2 separate regions of the Homo sapiens genome follow, and region 2 is linked to region 1. The links come from fine-mapping of genetic effects on gene expression. A gene starts in region 1. The other region holds a variant in brackets. All regions are shown on one strand. Distances are between the middles of the regions.

Evidence for each region.
Region 2: its variant is fine-mapped to the expression of TM9SF4 in whole blood (TOPMed, PIP above 0.99).

What each region holds. Positions count from the first base shown.
Region 1 is chr20:32,107,138-32,112,514 of GRCh38, reverse strand. TM9SF4 (transmembrane 9 superfamily member 4) reads right to left here and starts at 2,801. Exons shown (of 18, transcript NM_014742.4): 1 at 2,760-2,801. The coding sequence starts at 2,774. RefSeq lists enhancers at 1,795-2,537, 2,701-2,880, 2,538-3,282, 2,285-3,484.
Region 2 is chr20:32,180,162-32,185,538 of GRCh38, reverse strand. No RefSeq gene overlaps it. Among named protein-coding and RNA genes, the nearest start is that of PLAGL2, 25 kb to the left of the region's middle. RefSeq lists an enhancer at 2,982-3,482 and a silencer at 4,903-5,083. The variant C/G (reference allele first, on the strand shown) is at 2,967.

The DNA of each region.
Region 1 (5,377 bases):
CATGTTGGCCAGGCTGGTGTTGAACTCCTGGCCTCAAGTGATTTGCCTGCTTCAGCCTCCCAAAATTCTGAGATTACAGGCATGAGCCACTGCTCCCGGCCTGTTGTTGTTTCTTAAGACAGGGTCTCGCTCTGTTGCCAAAGCTGGAGTGCAGTGCAGTGATCAGGGCTCACTGAGGTTCAAGTGATCCTCCCACCTCAGCCCCGCAAGTAGCTGGTACTACAGGTGCACACCACCAAGCCCAGCTAATTTTTTCTTTTTGTATTTTTTTTGTAGAGGGGTTTGCCATGTTGTCCAAGCTGGTCTCAAACTCCTGAGCTCAAGCGATCTCCCAGCTTTGGTCTCCCAGAGTGCTGGGATTACAGGTGTGAGTCACTGTGCTGGGCAAAAATCACTGTCCCTTCCACTGTGCTTAGACTAAAATCCAAACTCCTTTCCACAGCCTCTGTGCCAACTGAGAACAAGCTGGCTCCCTTCAAGTACTGTCCTGAAGGGGATGGGAAGGGGAAGCAGCCTAATACAACACTATTTCAAAATGCAATCCACAGACAACAAAATGTAGACCGCAGTCCTTCCCATTTCCAGGCATGCTTCTCAAAACAGTTGCTCTTGCTTCCCTCCAGTTTCATCTTGTATCATTCTCTCCTACCCCAACCCTCATCATGCTTCGGCCCCTCCAGCCTTCTGTGTGTTCCTCAAAAACACCAAGCTCCCTTCCACATCGGCCCCTTACACTTGCCATTTCCTTTGCTTGGAACATTCTTTGCATGGCTGGTTCCTTCTTGTTAATTATGTTTTAACTCAAGTCACCTCCTCTGAGAAGACTTCTTTCTGACCACTCAATCCAAAGTAGTTGTGTCACCCAGTCACCCCTAATCACTATCACTTCATTTTGCTGTCCTCACAGCATCTACTGGTGACATTATTTTGTTCACGTATTTACTTGTTCACTGCCTGTCTCCTCAAACCAGAAAGGCTCCACAAGTGTAGGGACCTTGACCCTGTAATTCACAACTACATCCCTAGTTCCTGGAACAGAATTGGTACTCAAATATTTGTTGACTAAATAGATGTGTACCACATATATGTATTGCTAGCTTATAACCTCTTAAAAATCTCTGAACAAGGCAGGGATTTCCCAGTGCAGTGCCGTAAATACCACTTTACTCAATGTTTTCCTTATAGCAAGAGAGGGTGTGATTTCCTTTTAAGTTCTTACACTATCTCTGTTCTGAATGTGGTACCAGAATATATATACATATATGTAGGTTTCAACATACTACTTTGAGGATTTGCCCCACTCGTGGTTCAGCCTGAAGTCTGAAACCACAGAAACCAGGTAAGGCCATGAAATCTTTTTACCTGACCTCTGAAGTTCTAAATAAGGAATCCCTCATTAAACAAAGGTAAGTTCTCAGTCAGCTAAGAGAAGGAGGGAAAATTGCTACCAGTCAATAATATATCCCTGTTTGGAGAAAACCAACACCAAATTATTTAAGCCAGAATCTTCCTTTGCTAAAGTCAAATGTCATTTCCTTTTCTCTGAGTCTTCCTTGTCATTCACTCCCCGGACGAAATTATCTGCTGAGGAGGCAGTATGCAGGAAGACCCAGGAAATCATTCTGGACTAAGTGACTTCAATTTTAGTTCTGGTCTCTTGACAAGCAGAATTTGAACTAAACTTTTAGAAAAAGGGCCAGTCCTTCAAAGATTTACTTCCAAGGTTCTGCACCAGGAGCCCGCAAGCTCTGACCCAACTTCCAAGCATGGCTATTTTACCTCCACCCTCATCCACACACAGACTTCATCCCAACATATAGCTTCATAATAAAGAGCCTTCATCCCTAACGAGCTGTGTGGCCATGTTGGGGAATGGGAAGGAGAGCAGTGAGGTGGGGCTATTAGTGTTTTTCAAAACGTAGTTCACAGACCACCTCCACTATATAATCACTAGAGTGCTTATAAAAGGGCAGATTCCTGGGCATCACCTAGCCCTATGGAATTAGAATCTCTGGGAGTGGGGCTGCTCAGGAAACTGCATTTTTAGCATGCCTCCCCCTACACACCTCGAGATTCTTATGCACAGTAAAGTTTGAGAACCAACAGGGTAAAAGGTCCCTAAGAGAGGGGCAGGGAGTTGACTGAGAGAAGACAGGAAGGGCAGGGAAGCCTCTAGGGATGAAAGATGGGGGTGGGGTAGGTGAAGGCAAGCTCTGGGGTAGCGGCAGTCAAGGGGGTGCGCGATGGGGACAGCTATGAGTGTAAGTGAGGACAGGGCTCTGAAAAGGATCTGAGGCAGCGCTTGGGCTGGGAGGGTGGTCAGAGGAGAGGTCACATCTGCGGACTGGTTATGATGGTGGGGAGGCGGGGAGAGCAGGGTCTGGACGTGACGGGGAGGAGCAAGGATGAGAATAACGGGAGGGGGTCTTCAGAGGGGTCAGGACAGGGAGGTGAGAAATGGAAAATGGGGCTCACAGTGGGCGGAGACCAAAAGTAGAATGGGAACCGGCGAAGGCAGCAGCCGAGGTCTTCCTCCGAAACGGCGCCTCCCCCAAAACTCGGGGCCTTCACAAGCCTGAGTGCAGGGGCAGGGCCAGGGAGGTGGATTTCGGGGAAGACAAGCCCAGTCAGAGGTAGCCCTCAGGCCTGAGTCAGGGGTCCCGGAGGTGGCTCAGGGCCAGGCATGGGGTGCTGGAAGATCCTGGGATACCCCGGAGGGCCCCGCTCCAGCTCCCGCTCCCGGAGTCTCCTTCACTCACCATCGCCGTCGCCATCTTGGATCCACGTGTCGCCGTAATGACGTCAGCGGAAGTGGTGCTCCCTGGTTACGGAGTTTAACTCCACAAGGTGGTCGTCTGGCTTCAACCGCTCCTGTAGTGGCGGTCAGCAGAGGGGAAAAGGAGTCTTAGCTCCTGCTCGACAGTCTGGTCTGGGAAAGTAAGGTCGCTGATTAGGTGAAGAGAGAGAACGGTGTAACTAAGGAAGCCATATTAGCTCCTGGCAGAAACTGAGCCTCCCTTATTCCCGCTGCATTGTGGGTAATGGGGGTGTGCGAAAGTGCGCTCGTGCTCTCAGCGCCATCTTTACTACTGGCAGGAAGACCCATTGCCAGGGTTACCTGAGACCTTGATTTGAGGGAAAGGGTGGGCACTGGGGCTCCAAGAGCAGTACGACTCCAAGAATAATTTGTAATTATATATTTAAGTATTTGTTTGATTTTAAGTATTTGTTTGACTATCCTATATCCTCTTTAGTAGACTGTAATCCCCATGAGGGTGGACCCTGTTTTTTTGTTTGTTCGTTTTTTACCTTGCTCTTCCTCATTCCCATCTGTGAAATGGGAAGGGGGTTGGTTCATCATAGGCTTGTGATGAGGATTCAGTGACACAGTATTACATAGGATGTATTCAATAAATAATTGTCAGTATATGTTTATGTATACTCCTTTGGGCTTGTGGTAGATGCCCAATACATTATTTTTTAAATGAACGAGTGAAAACCAGCATATTCAGTGGAGGGAGATATCTCTGAATGTGGACGTCATGCACTAGCTTAGTGTGTGACTCCAGACAAGTCACGCAATCTTCCTAAGCCTCAGTTTCCAAATCTGTGAAAAAGAGACTCAAAGAATCATGGTATTAAGGTTGGGAAAGAACTCAAAGTTCATTTGACCCATGTATATCACTTTAAACTGAATACAGTACCAGTGCTATCTTAGACTGTTTTAAAAAAGCTATTAAAAGAATAATAATGATTAATAATAATCATCAGCACTTGCCGAGCATTTTGTGTGCTGCAGCACTTAGCATTATGCTAACAGTTCATTAGACTCTTTTTATCTAATTCTAGGGGGCAAGGGACAGTTGAACTCTGATCCCCACCTATGGGCACCACTGTGGTGGATTTTCTGCAAAGATGGCTGCCACGTAGTTCTGTCCGTCCTTGCATGATGAGCATACGGTTTCTCTCCTCAAGAGATAGACTCTGTTTTACCTCCTGTTGAATCTGGCTGGTCATGTTGGTTGCTTTGACCAATAGGATGTGCTACAAGTGATTCTGCCAGTACTGAGCCTAGGCCTTAAGAGGATTGAAAACGTCTGATTCTACCTTCTTGGTTATAAAGAAGTGTAGCTACTCTGCTGGAAAGGCACCTGGAGAGAGAGGGAGGCCCAGCCAACTCCTCAAGACATTCTAGAAACTACAGCTAAGCACTATAATATGTAACTGAAGTCATCTTGGACATTCCAACCCCCACTGAGCTACTAGCTGAATGCAGCTACATGAATAACCTCATGAACACCATGTGGACCAAAAGAACTGCCCAGCTAAGCCCAGCTTTAGAGTGGGGTGGTTTATTATAGATCATTTCAGTAATAGATCATTGAAACACACACCCATTAACTCTTGTGACCTGCACAACCATCCTGAAGATTGGCAGATTGGCTATTAACCCCAAGGAGGAGGAAGCTTGAGAGACTAGGGGGAATTTGCTGCAGTCTCATAGTTTCCAGACTTGGAACCAGTTTTCCTAGAGCTTCGATCCTGAGTGTTTCCCACCATTTCTAGCTGCCTGAAGAAAGATAACTGATAAGGAGCAAAGCTCCATAAATGGCCTATTATTTTTTAGTATTTCCATTTTTTTTCTCATGCTTTGTATTTTTCCCTAAAGGCCTTTCATATCCCAATCTCTTTTGGTGACATATGCCAGAATCCTAGAACTAGACTGCCTGGGTTCAGAACGCATTTCCACCACTCATTAGCTCCATAACATGGGCAAGTTTCTCTTTTTTTTCTGAAAAAAATTTTTTTTGAGATGGAGTCTCACTCTGTTGCCGAGGCTGGAGTGCAGTGGCGCAATCTCAGTTCACTGTAACCTCTGACTCCCGGATTCGAACAATTATCTTGCCTCAGCCTCCTGAGTAGCTGGGATTACAGGTGCATGCCACCAAGCCCGGCTGAGTTTTTGTATTTTTAGTAGAGATGGGGTTTCGCCATGTTGGCCAGGTTGGTCTAGAACTCCTGACCTCGAGTGATCTGCCTGCCTTGGCCTCCCAAAGGGCTGGGATTACAGGTGTGAGCCACTGGACCCGGCCTAAATATTTTTCATTGTTGTAAAATATGCATAACTAAATATTGACTATTTTAATCATTTTTAAGTGCACAAATCAGTGAAATCAACTACATTCACAAAGTTGTCAATCATTACCGTCATCCGTCTCCAGAACATTTTCGTCATCCCTAAAAATGAATATCCACATGCAAAAGAATGAAATTGGACCTTTATCTCACACTATATACAAAATCAATTCAAAATGGATTAAAGACTTATAGGGCCAGAAACTGTAAAGCTACTAGATGAAGACATAGGGAAAACTTG
Region 2 (5,377 bases), 73 kb before region 1:
CAAACTCCTGACCTCAAGTGATCCACCTGCCTCCACCTCCCAAAGTGCTGGTATTACAGGCGTGAGCCACTGCACGTGGCCTCTCTGAAATGATCTTTTCTTACCTTCTTCCACCTCCTTTCACATGTGGCAGGAGAACAGGGACACATGTTTCTGCTGCTTTGCTTCCCCATAGTTTAGTGTCCAGTGTCTCAAAGATTACTGGTATGAGTGACTGACTTTATTCCAGCATACAGAGTACTGTGCTGGGCTCTGACAAAGGCATAGTTCCTGCCCAAAGGATTTGAGTTGGGTGGAGAACGGTGTGGGTGATGAAGGGTGACTGTTTAATTTGCCATCCAGCTGGAACATATCTGGGAATGAAAGGGTCACGACTAATAATTACACCGGGGCAAGAGGTGTAACTGGTATCCAACGGTCATCCAAGGAGACAAAACCCAACTGTGTTCAACGTGGCTTATAGTTCACCAGGTATGTGATGATGTGGGACCAGAGGGCGGAGACTTCTCTGAAGTTGGGTCACGAGCTGGGTGTTAAAGAATAGGCAGTAGTTTGGAAAGTGGAGCCAGAGAAGGGAATTCCTGGCAGAGCGAACAACATGAGCGAAGGCACTGGATGGGAAAATGTGCGGCGTGGTTAACGTATAGCATGTGCTGTGGGTTTGGCTGCTTGGGAGAGGCAAAGCTGAATGGGTAGATTGAGGCCACTTTTTTCTTTTACTTATCTTTTATTATTTTTTTTTTCAAGAGCAATACCTGAAGAGGCCACTTTCTGAAGATAGGAACTCTTGAATGCCAAGCCAAGGCATTATCCTGTGGATAGTGAGGAGGGGTATCAGGCATGGTTCAGAGGTGGAGTGATCTCACAGGGCATGTCTGGAGGAGTGTCTGCAGTTATAGACCCCTAGTGTCTTCAGTTTGAACCTTATCTGTCCATCTAGGCTATAGCTCTTCTAGGAAGCCCTCCATGATTTCCCCAGCCCACAACAGTGTCTGCCACCTCCCATGTACAGCCTAAAACCAGAATCTGGGCACCAGTGCCTGTCTAGGCTGCACCCTCTGGGTGCTGTTTTGTGCCAGATGACTGCCTCTAATGTTCCCGGGGGGATCAGGGTGAGCCTGTAAGCATCCTGGTGATTCTAGGAGGTGGTGCCCCATGTGGTTTGCCTGACTCTTGCCTGCTGGTTTGCAGGCTGCGTTGGCTCCTGCAGCCATACTTGGGCCCAGCTGCATCCTGCATTCCCCTAGGGCCCAGGCAATGGTTCTTTTCTAAAATGGGCACTTACCTGCCTACCTGTTCTCTCTGTGGCATAGCCAGTGGCTTGCTTCCTTTACATGGCACCAACGGCATGTCCCACCTGCCCTGGGGGCATGAGTCTCCTCCTCAGAACCCACTCCAAGCTTGCTCACTCATTCATGCCCTGAGTCACTGATATATCCACACATCTTAGCACCAGCTATAATAGGCATGGATGACCATTCTGGTCCCTGCCCTCAGTGAGCTCCGGGGTCCAATGGTGCAGCTGAAGAACATTGATAATAATCACCAAAGTTTATTAACCACCTACCATGTGCCAGGGCTTTATATGGGTGCAGCAGGCAGAGTGTGGCTGTCTAAGCCTGAGTCAGACCATGCCCTTCTGCTCCAAACCCAATGGCTGCAATATACAGAGGAAAAGCCAACATGCTCTGCCTGGCCTGCAAGACCCTCCTGATCTGACTTCCAGTCACCAATCCAACTTCATCTCCTATGCTTCTCCGCCGCCAGACCACTTTCGAGCTCCAGCAGCCATTTTTTTTTTTGAGATGGAGTCTCACTCTGTTGCCCAAGCTGGAGTGCAGTGGCACGATCAAGGTTCACTGCAGCCTCAACCTCCCAGGGCTCAGGTGATCCTCCCACCTCAGCCTCCTGAGTAGCTGGAACTACAGGTGTGTGCCACCATGCCCAACCAATTTTTGTATTTTTTGTAGAGATGGGGTTTCACCATGTTGTCCAGGTTGGTCTTGAACTCCTGGGCTCAGGCAATTTGCCCACCTTGGCCTCCCAAAGTGCTAGGATTTCAGGTGTGAGCCACCATGCCCAGTCTACACCAGCCTCTTGCTAGTCTTCAAACCTGGCTGAAGACCTTGCTTCCTCTTCCCTCTGCCTAGACGCTGCTTCTCCAGATGTTTGCATGGCCGGCTCCTGCCTTCATTAAAGTTTATCAGTTCAAACATTAGTTACACCTCTTCCAGGGAAGCCTTCCCCGACCACCCTTTCTAAAACTCACCCTGTCACTCTCTGTCCCCTTTCTGTTATAGCACTTAACAACCACCTGATATCACATTGTATATTCATTTTATCTGTTTTTTTTCTCTACACTCTTCGGGAATTTTTTTTTTTTTTTTTTTGAGACGGAGTCTGGATCTGTCACCCAGGTTGGAGTGCAGTGGCATAATCTCAGCTCACTGCAACCCCCTCCTCCTGGGTTCAAGCAATTCTTGTGCCTCGGCCTCCTGTGTAGCTGGGATTACAGGCATGCACCACCATACCTGGCTAATTTTCGTATTTTTAGTAGAGATGGGGTTTCCCCATGTTGGCCAGGCTGGTCTCGAACTCCTGACCTCAGGTGATCTGCCAACCTTGGCCAAAGTGCTGGGATTACAGGCGTGAGCCGCCACACCCAGAGGCACTTTGTTTTATTCATTGCTAAATCCCCCTTACCTAGAGCAGCACCTGGCACAAGTAGTTCTTTGTGAAATGAATGAATGCATGTGTCACATCTTTGAGGTTCAGGAGGGTCTTCCTGGTGGGCGAGGCGACAGCATGTATGAAGGCATCAGATGCCTGCTGAAGGCCCTTCTGGGGTTTGTATCTCTAGCGATAGGAACTCTCTACTGCCCAAGGCAGTACCGCCCTTTTCCAGGCAGTCTTGGAATTGAGGCAATAAATGTCCCGGAGCCCATTCCCGACTCCTACTACAGAGA[C/G]ATGGCCACGTGGCCTACACATGCTCCAAGCGTGGAGGAAGGAGGCCAGGGTACAGAGGGGGCTTCCTGCTCTGGCGTGGAGAGCAAACACAAGCCTTGGATCCCAGGGTTCTGCTCCCCTCTGTCTCAGGTGCCTGCCCTGTTCTGTTCTGTTGGCCCGGGAAGGAACTTTGGACAGGCTCTTTTAAATCCAAGAAAAACCTGTCCCGAAACTATGGCAATTACTTGTAATCTGCAACTGCCTTGATTACAGCTCGGGGGACTTTGATATTTTCCTCCAAGGATACCATTTCAGCACAAAAATTCAAGGAAGTCCCCAGTGCTTGCTTGCTCTTGCTCAGCAGGAGAACTAAACGTTGACTGGAGTCGGTGAACTTTGAGGCCTCCACCCACAGGCCCCACCATCAAAGCTGACTCAGGATCCTGGGGCACAGGGCTGTAGTGCATCAGGCACCCGCTGGAAGGCTGATAGGCCTGTGCAGGGCTGCTCTTGCCACTTCCCCCTACATGGCCTTAGGCATGTCTTTTCACAGCTATTGGCCCTTTTCTCATCCAAAGGAGAAAGTCAAAACTCCTTAGCAGGAGGTAAAAGTACCTTTAAGGTGCTCCCCTCCATGCACCTCCAGCCCTCCAGGTGGCTGGCTCAGTGACAATGCTTTTGCTTTTGGTGGCATCTAACTGAACCACTAAGTCTTTTTTCCTTATATGAATATTCAGAGGGGAATTGAGGCAGTGGGGCTATTTGATCCATCACCTCAATGATGCGTCCAGGCTCGGGCCTTCTCTGATCTGCCATCCTTCTTGTTAGTTCCATCCTCAGGTTGGTGCCAAGATGGTGGCAGCAGCCCCAAGTGTCCACACTGGAATATGGCAATTCCAGAGAGGGGAGACTATGTCTTACCATGGCTCCTCTTAAAATGGAGGAAGCCTTTCCCAGAAGCCACTGTAGATTTTCCTGGTCCTATACCTTACTGACTAGAACTGGGTCACATGCCCAGTCTTGAATTAGTTATTGGCAAGGGGGAGCAGGGTAGTGGTAGACCAAGCATTGACGCGGAATGGATGTCTGCTCATAATGTCCAGTGCCTAGAGGCAAGCTAAGACCACTGCCTCTAGGCGCTCACAGTCACACTTTGGCTTTTCTGTGAGACCTCACAGCTGGCACTTTCACCCCATGATGGCCCTCAGGGTTAGAGGGTGCTGACTTCTAGGCTAGCACAGGTCCAGTTGCAAGGGTTCTGGACCTAGAAAGTTCCTTAAGTTGAGCCAAGTCACTGCCAAACTAAGATTCCTAGGAGGCAGGCCCTTTAGACTCTCCTTTGGTGAGTGAGGAGAGATTGAGCATCAATTGTGTGAGTGTCTCTTTCACTTCAAAGAACTTGGCTGGGTGTGGTGGCTCACACCTGTAATCCCAGCACTTTGGGAGGCCAAGGTGGGCACATCACTTGAGTCTAGGAGTTCGAGACCAGCCTGGGCAACATTGTGAAACCCTGTCTCTACAAAAAACATATAAAAATTAGCTGAGTGGGGCCAGGTGTGGTGGCTCACGCCTGTAATCCCAGCACTTTGGGAGGCCGAGGCGGGCGGATTACAAGGTCAGGAGATCGAGACCATCCTGGCTAACATGGTGAAACCCCGTCTCTACTGAAAATACAAAAAAAAAAAAAAAAATTAGCTGGGCATGGTGGCGGGCGTCTGTAGTCCCAGCTACTCAGGAGGCTGAGGCAGGAGAATGGCGTGAACCTGGGAAGCGGAGCTTGCAGTGAGCCGAGATCGCGCCTCTGCACTCCAGCCTGGGCGACAGAGTGAGACTCCATCTCAAAAAAAAAAAAAAAAAAAATTAGCTGAGTGTGGTTGTGGGCGCCTGTAGTCCCAGCTATTCGGAGGCTGAGGTGGGAAGATTGCTTGAACCTGGGAGGTGGAGGTTGAAGTGAGCTGAGATTGTGCCACTGCACTCTGACCTGGGCAACAGAGCAAGACCCTGTCTCAAAACAAAACAAAACAAAAAATCACTCATACAGTGCTTCGCAGAGGCCCTGTGATCTTACAGGTAAAAAAAGGCGGTGCAGACCGGGCGCAGTGGCCACACCTGTAATCCCAGCACTTTGGGAGGCCAAGGTGGGAGGATCACCTGAAGTCAGGAGTTTGAGACCAGCCTGGCCAACTTGGCGAAACCCTGTCTTTACTAAAAATACAAAAAAAAATTAGCTGGGCGTGGTGGCAGGCGCCTGTAATCCCAGCTACTTGTGAGGCTGAAGCAGGAGAATCGCTTGAACCCAGAAGGTGGAGGTTGCAGTGAGCTGAGATGATGCCATTGCACTCCAGCCTGGGCAACAAGAGTGAAACTCTGTCTCTAAAAATAAAAATAAAAAAAGCAGTGCAGAGACTTCTGTTTCTAGGCAAGGTGGAGT